Regions from separate parts of the Homo sapiens genome. Here region 2 is linked to region 1. Evidence: fine-mapped expression QTL. Tissue or cell type: spinal cord. Region 1 holds a variant in brackets; the other region holds the start of a gene. All regions are shown on one strand. Distances are between the middles of the regions.

Region 1 (4,410 bases):
GTAAAGTCCACATAATGGGTCACCAAGATGCTGGATGATGTGTCAGAGCCCTGGCACTGGGAAGTGGTCGACTCACAGGTTGGTAAAAAGAATTTACCAACAACAGTATAGGTTTGAAAAAGCAAAGTTCATTACAAAGAAAGAACGCTCCAAAAGGGTGCAGCGGGGTGCCTCAGCAAGAGGACTAAACACACTGTGGTGGATTTTCCTTAGGGGTATTTATGACTTTAAGGAGGGAATTTAGGATTGTAAAATGAGTTTTGGCATGGCATTCCAGAGATGTATAGAAATTTTAGTTACTCATAAAAGTTGAAAGAGGCCTGGAACTAGATGCAAACAGGTGGTCTTTGTTCCTTTCTAAATTCCTCAGATAAGAAGTTTTTGTCTCCAGGACCTCTTCAGTGGTCACCAGGTGATTTTCACTCTCCTCAGTCCCCACACAAATCTCATCTTGAATCGTAATCCCCACTGTATCAAGGGAGGGACCTGGTGGGAGGTGACTGGACCATGGGGGTGGTTTCCCCCATGCTGTACTCGTGATAGTGAGGGAGTTTTCACGAGATCTGATGGTTTTAAAAGCGGCAGTTTCCCCTGCGCACTCTGTCTCTCCTGTTGCCTTGCGAAGAAAGCGTTTGCTTCCCCTCTACTTTCTGCCATGATTTTAAGTTTCCTGAGGCCTCCCCAGCCATGCAGAACTGTGAATCAATTAAGCCTCTTTTGTTTATAAATTACCTATTTTATCTATAAATTGTTTATAAATTATAAGTTTATAATTTATAAATTATAGTATCTTCATATAATTTATATATATAATATATAAAATATATATAATATATATAAATTATATTAAATTTATATAAAGCTAACATGTTTTTTGTGGATACACATAAATATATATTTATATATAAAATGTATATTTATATATTATTATATAACAGCATTTATATATATTATATATTATATATAATTTCTATAATTATATTTAATTATATAATTATATAAATTATAAATTATAGTATCTTAATAGCAGTGTGAAAACAGATTAATACAATAGCCATATGTAGAAGAATACATCTGGATACACATTTCTCAGCATATACAAAAATTAAAAGTTCTTGTCCTTGACTTGGAAAACTCTGGATTTAAATCTGACCTCTGTCACTTTACTATCTATATGATCTTGAGTAAGTTACTTAACCTCTATGAATCAGGATACCTATGTCATAGGGCTACTGTGAGAATTAAATAATGTAATATATGTAAGGGATTGAGTATAGTGAGCACTCAGTAACTACAAACAAAAATAGTAGTAAGAGGGGAAAGGTAAATAGAAGCTTGCTAAGAATGGAGGGAGGAAAGTTTGAATGCAAACGTACTAAGGCAAGAGCACATGGTATCTTCAGGGAACAACAAGAAAAACATAAGACCTGAGCAGAGATTTAATGGGGAAGAATAGTGGAGAGGAAGTTGGTAGGCTGATACAAAGGATATCATACTAAAGGTTTAGATTTTTTTTTTTTTTTTGAGATGAAGTCTTGGTGTGTCACCCAGGCCGGAGTGCAGTAGCATGATCTCAGCTCACTGCAACCTCTGCTGCCCGGTTCAAGCAATTCTCCTGTCTCAGCCTCCTGAGTAGCTGGGCCTATAGGTGCATGCCACCATGCCCAGCTAATTTTTGTATTTTTAGTAGAGGCAGGGTTTCACCATATTGGTCAGGCTGGTCTCGAACTCCTGACCTCAGGTATTCACCCGCCTCAGCCTTCCAAAGTGCTGGGATTACAGGTGTAAGCCACTG[T/C]GCCTGGCCAAGGTTTAGATTTTATTCTATAGTTTATGGGCAGTCTGAAAAATTATGAATGCAAAGGAATACTCTAATGGTAATATGGAAAATTTATTTTCTCAGGGATATATTAATAATGATATTTTCCTTTACATGGTTACTTTAAAAGATTTGCTGCTTCCCTAAGAGTGATTTTTATCATTCCTTGGAAGCTAACATATTTTCTGTGGATACATCTGTTTGTTAATAGAGGCAATGAAAAAATTGGACTTGAGATTTTTACATGAAACCTTAAAAAATATTTATTCCTTGTACAGAATTATATCTGTTTTCATGTGCAGCCAAGGTCATATGGTATGGATTCAGTGGCAATCGTGAGCCCTTATATTTATAGCACAAGTAATAGGATAACAAGGACAGAAGTAAGAAGTAATAGCCTAAATGGACAACCTATAAAGATTACATTTTTGGACACAGCTTTACCTTGGCCATATTTCTGTTCCATAATGGGTTAAATCCAAATTTACAAAACAACTATGGTATAACAGATTGGAGTGACTGGTGACACAGTCAGTCTAACTGCATGCTCTACAATCAGTCATGAAAATAATGAGTATGGACACATAGGCCATGCTTCAATTCTCTGGCTGCCAACTAACATAGCCATGGCATATGGGCAATTGTGGCATTCAAACGTATATAATTTAATTGTCTTGATTACAGGTAATAGTAAACAGAAAATAATAGTGCTAAATAACAATACCCTAAACTAATCAGGGCACATCTCTGCAAATCACTTCACTGCACTGCTGTACAGACTGTTCCCTATCTTAAAAATTATAAGACATCCCAAATTACCGTGCAGTATTCATCATCAAACTGCTATTTGATAATTGTTATTACATCAAAGACCAGAGACAAAGATCAAAGAATAAGAACTACAGTTGTCTCAGCCTACATATTGAAGCCCATCCCAATTCTCACTAACTTTCCGCGTTGCCTGTACACCACAGTGATAAATGTCTCAGGCATCTAGATATGGATTTTAACTCTGGAGGAAAGCAAAAGTTTTCTTGTGGACCCCATTTATTTTGTAATAAAGGTTGTGTTATTTGTAGGTCTTAGTAGTCCTAATTTCTACAAAGTTCTATAGGAAATAAAAGGATAAAAAGAGACTTTAAAGAGACCTTGATCCCAGCTCCTAGATCTTTCTGGCAATCATTCACTCTGGGTTCTGCCATCACAAAGGACCTTATCTAAGAGTCCAGCCAGTCTGATCAAATAGCTCTTCTTTAAATGTCTGATACATTTGCACATGCAATTCCTTTCTTACCACAATCCTCACTCTTCAGCACAGATATTTACTTGGCAAAGGCCCTGTTATTGATCAAGAGCCAGTTCAAGTGTCTCCTTCTCTATTTTCTAAGAGACAATTTAAAACCCTCATAGGAGACCTCTACTTTTGCACTTATCACACCATGTCATAATAATTTGCTTGAAATATTTTTCTCATTTATCAGGCTATAAACATTTATTTTTATAATCTCAACTCCCATTAAAATGTCTGCTGCAAGGTGAGTGCTTAATAAATATTTTTCTGTTTATTTATGCTATGTCTTCTTTCAAAAAGAATTGAGTATGGAATATATAGATGCATTTAGTGGAATGAGATTTTTTCTAAAAAAAGAAAGCAAAGAAAAAGTGTTTAACAGATTGACTGACTAAAGATCTAAAAAAAATAATTAATGTTCAGGAATTTAGGAGTGGTATGTTTTTCCCAATTTTAGAATCAATAGGGGAGAAAATAAGAATTAAAAAAAAAAAACCTTCCTTAAAACTTTAAGCCTGCACACTTTATGTGAAATATAAAAAGGTTATTTAAACTTTAAATCACTGGAAGAAATAAAGTAAATTCTTTTGATTATTGTAAATGTTTGTTCTGTGCTTAAGTCACCAGTCTCCATTTTTGCCATTCACATCTAAGCTTCAACATTTTAATTAAACGGCTAAGCAGTTGAATCATATGTCTAATAACATCAAAAACTATCTTCTACACCTATTAACAAACTCAATACAAAGGCAGCCCTGCTCAGAATAGGAAAGTAGGCAGTTTGTCGTGGTGTTTGCCTCTCTTCCATATTAGGGACTCTTCCAGGGCATAGGTTAAACACAAATAATTTTCTAAGAGACAACTTAAAACAAGAGAACAGCAATTAAAAGCAAATAACTAAGAAGGAAATGAAGAAAAAAAGATAACATAACTATATCAGAAAAACCAGTCTGAGAGAGGCTACCACAATTGAAAACAGAACTAAGCACGAAGCTTTCTGGCAAAAAAAGAAAATACATAGGCAGAGTGTGGCGAGTGAATCATATAAGATAATTAAAGAAAGTACAAGATCATCAAAATAAACACTTTCAGAGTTCTGAAAATTATTTACCTTTTTGTAATATTGATGATATTTTCCATAGAAGTGATAAAACCTTCAGAGATGCTCTTCCTTTGGCAATTTCTTATATCAGTTTAATTCCTCATTTCAGTTTCACACACCCTCTGTACTCTCTCAACAATCCATATCTTTTTATACACCATTTCCTCTGAGTATAATGCTTTTCCTTGTTCATCCTTGCCT
Region 2 (4,410 bases), 35 kb after region 1:
TTACATATATTTGATTTTGCCAAGAGGTTAAAAATTCTGTAAGAACCTAGTATGCTTTCCAGGCAATATACTTTTTTAAAAAAGGTTTTTAAAAACATTACTAACAGGATGAATATAGTAGGAGAATATTTTACATTTCTGTAGTCCAAGAGACTTGCTTCTGGCTAACAAGTACATTTCTGGGAAAGCTTGCTCAATCTGAATCAGAAAGCAGAGAAAAGAAGCAGTCAGATCAGCAGGAAGAACAAATGTTGCAAATGGAAGAAAACACAGACAGATGGCTCAATCTGTGTTAGATCACACTGAACCATTGTGAAGGCAAGTAAGGACATTAATTGTTCAGAGCATGCACATAGTGAAATGGGAGGAAATTATTCATTATTTGCAGATGGATTTCCTGATACTCTACAGAAAGACTACTAACATACCTGCATAATGCTGTCCCCAGAGGAAATGAAAAGATTTGACATTTTCTCCCAAAATCGATCTTAGTTTCACATTTACAAAGAAAGAGCCTTCATTGGACTATTTATCCTTGTGGCTATTTTTATGGCTTTTTCATTGGTTTAAAGCTGAAAAATATTAGAAAAATTTGGAGTGATTTGCTTACTAAAAAGCCATATTATAAGTCCGTATTATTTCAATTGGTGCCAGATAATACTTCAGTAATTGTCATCAAAAAATGCGAGAGCTTTTTGTCAATGACAACAGTTGTGAAGAAGACAATAGTTTCTCTCATTCATGCCACATTAAAAATTAACTTTTCTACTTTTAACTTCCTTGTCCCCAGGAAGATTTGACCTCCAGAGCCAAAATTACTATTTTTAGCTACATTTATCTCAGCTGGGTATCAATAGATACCCAGTATTATCTAACTAATTTACATTACAGTGTTTCTAACTAATATTCCTTCCAGGGTTACACTTTTAAAAGAATTCTTCTTAACCAGAATGAAACACTTATTGGTAGAATGTCCAGCAACTGGCAAATTTCTAAACATCTACTGTATCAAGGTGGCATGTCAAGTCATTTAAAAAAGGACATATTTTGAGGATAATTGGCTAGCCATTTGGAAGAAAAGTAAAATTAGATCTCTACTTCAGGCCATAGACAAATACAATAAAAGATTCATGATTAATTATCATAAAGTTAAAAATAAAAGTTAAAAATTCAAAAGAAAATATAATAGGAAATGTTTTATTATTCTTTATACTAAGCCTTTCTTATGAAACAAAACTAAATAAAATTAAGAAAAATATTGAAACTTTGATTACATAAAATTTTGTGATTTTTTAAATTTTAATTTATTTTAGAGACAGAGTCTTGCTCTGCTGCCTAGGCTTGAGTGCAGTGGCACAATCATGTCACTGCAACTTTTGTTTGTCTGTTATTTTATTTTAAGTTCCAGGATACATGTGCAGGATGTGCCGGTTTGTTACGTAGGTAAATGTGTGCCATTGTGGTTTTCTGTACCTATCAACCCACTGCCTAGGTATTAAGCCCAGCACGCATTAGCTATTTTTCCTGATGCTCTCCCTCCCCCTACCCCGCCCCTCCTGACAGGCCCCAATGAATCACTGCAACTTTGAACTCCTGGGCTTAAGTGATCCTCCTGCCTCGGTCTCTCAAAGTTCTGGCATTATAGGCATGAGCCACTGCACCTGGCCTCACATAAAATTTTAAATATCATCCAGTAAGAAAGACCATATACAAAATTAAAATTATGAATGAGAAATTGAAAAGATATTTGTAACATATATGATAGACAAGGAAAGCCAGTAAAGGCAGTGTTTAAGAGCATAGGCTCAGAAATGAGATTGCATAGGTTCAGATATTAACTACACCACATCCTTAGTCTTTTGACCTTAGGCAAGTTATTTAACGTCCTTGGGCCTCAAGTTTCCTCATCTATAAGAAGGAGGTAATAATAAATCTATTTTCTTGGGTTAGCTGAGAACTATTATAATTGCCCATGATATATCAAAGGTTAATTAAATCAATAAGATAAGCGGAACTGATCTACTAGATATTGAACATGAATAAAAACCTATCTATCCATTTCATCTTATTTTCAGCTACTCCTTGGCACAAATCTTACATATCAAATTGTCCTGGTCCACATTCTCTTTAAATTGGGTGTAGATTTCTGTGATGGTTAATTTTCGATGCCAGCTTGACTGAGTTAAGGGATACCCAGCTGGTAATAACTGGTAAAGCATTATTCCTAAGTATGTCTGTGCAGCTGTTTCTGGAAGAGATTGGCATTTGAATTAGTGGACTCAGTAAGGAAGATCCACCCTCCCCCATGGATAAGCAACATCCAATTGGCTGAGGGCCTGGATAGAACAAAAGGGCAAGAGAAAGCTGAATCTGCTCGCTCTTCTGGAGCTGAGACACTCATCTTCTCCTGCCCTGGCACATCAAAACTCCAGGTTCTCTGATCTTTGAACACTGGGACTTAATCCAGCATCCCCTTACTGCCTGAAGTTCTCAGGACTTTGGACTTGGACTGAACGATGCTACCAGCTTCCCTGGCTTTCCAGCTTGTAGATGGCGTATCATGGAATTTCTCAGTCTCCAAAGTAATGTGAGCCAATTCCTATAATAACTCTCTTCTCTATCTAATCTATTAATATTTACATTTCTTATTGTTTTTCATTTACCTGGAGAACCCTAATAAAACTTCCTGTTGCATACCTTTAATGTCATCATCATTATCTCAGTCCAAAATTCTCCTTGCAGTCACTGGAAGTAAAATATTAATATCACCCATATTTTAAATTCAAACTCAAATCCTGCTTTTAATATATTATTAGTCAGCCAAAATGTTGCATTCTCTCTCTGAATTTCTAAGGAGTCTATAATACTAGTTTCTACATATAATCAAATATTGTTTTGTTCTTTCGGTGTGGAATATGTACATGTTTTATCTCCTACAGAAATTTGTAAATTTTCACAAGCAAGAATCTTCTTCTACTTCTTTAACCTCACAATGCATAGTAAGTACTTATTGTGGAAATGTTAAAATTTTTTTCTGTTTTCCATAACATTGATCTGCTACAGGCCAATCAGTGAGAATGTATATAGAATTCCCATACCCGTAATCTGTTCACCACCACCACCAACTTTCGCCCGAAACCCTTACCCTACATACACACTTAGAAAAAGAAACAAACATTTCCCAAATGGCATATGGTTCCTTTTGTTACTTGCACTTAACTAATAAATATATGAGACATGATCTGTGCTATATTTTTAGCTGAAAGGGGGAATGGGTGGAAGAGTTAAGCAGGCTATTTCAGTGTTTAAGAGAGATGATGGTGGCTTGGGCAGGATGGTAGCAGAGGAGGTCAAGATGGGATCAGGCTGGGTGTGGTGGCTCTCACCTGTAATCCCAGCACTTTGGGAGGCCCAGGTGGTGGCTCATCTGAGGTTGGGAGTTTGAGACTAGCCTGACCAACATGGGGAAACCCTGTCTCTACTAAAAATACAAAAATTAGGTGTGCATTTCTGTAACGGGTGTGGTGGTGCATGTCTGTAATCCTAGGTACTTGGGAGGCTGAGGCAGGAGAATCACTTGAACCTGGGAGGCAGAGGTTGCAGTGAGCTGAGATCGCACCACTGCATTCCAGCCTGGGCAACAGAGTGAGACTCCATCTCAAAAAAAAAAAAGAAAAAAAAAAGAGATGGGATCAGACTCCAGATACATTTTGAAGGTAAAGGCAGCATATTTGCCTGCAGACTGGATATAGTGTGAGAAAGAAAGGTCAAGGGCAAGATCCAGAATGTCAACTGCATAGCTGACTTCAGAAAATAACCAGTTCAAATCAGAGCAAATGGATGAAGAGGGCATAGGTTTCCAGATGAAATGGGCAAAATATCTTTGTTTTGAATACCTGAAAATTATATTAGTAGGCGTATAACAGATTTAGTAGAGCATATTTAAAAATTAAGAGTAGATACATAGAAAATGAACCAATAAACAAACCAGGCAATTATTAATCTTAGGAAAAAAATATTAAATATATAATAAAAGGTATATAAGCACAGGTTTATTTAGCTTTGCAGGGAACAATATTTTTATAGTATTAATAACATAAACACAGAGTAATTGATTTAGCAAAATATTGTGATAGAACTCTACTGGAAGGATGAGAGGAGGGGGAAAACTACAAAAAACTAAATAAATCCTTATTTGCCATAACAGGAAGTCAACAGATAAAGTATAAAATTATCAAATCAAGAAATAGGATTATGAACATATTATTTAGATGTGGAGGTAAATATAGAGGATACTGCTAAAAATAGTGAAAAATGATACCTTATACGGTAAGGCTAATTTTAACATGAATAATTACAGTTAACTGGAACCTCAGATATTCTTTTTTTGTTTGTTTTTGTTTAATTTTG

What was found. PIP is the estimated chance that this variant, and not a neighbour inherited with it, causes the effect. A credible set is the group of variants that fine-mapping cannot tell apart.
Region 2: it holds the start of LINC02821, and the variant in region 1 is the best candidate, but not a certain one, in a credible set for the expression of LINC02821 in spinal cord (GTEx, PIP 0.51).

Annotation. Positions count from the first base shown.
Region 1 is chr12:70,142,600-70,147,009 of GRCh38, forward strand. No RefSeq gene overlaps it. Among named protein-coding and RNA genes, the nearest start is that of LINC02821, 36 kb to the right of the region's middle. The variant T/C (reference allele first, on the strand shown) is at 1,796.
Region 2 is chr12:70,177,952-70,182,361 of GRCh38, forward strand. It overlaps LINC02821 (long intergenic non-protein coding RNA 2821), which reads left to right and starts at 2,376. Exons shown (of 3, transcript XR_945070.3): 1 at 2,376-2,587; 2 at 2,940-2,999.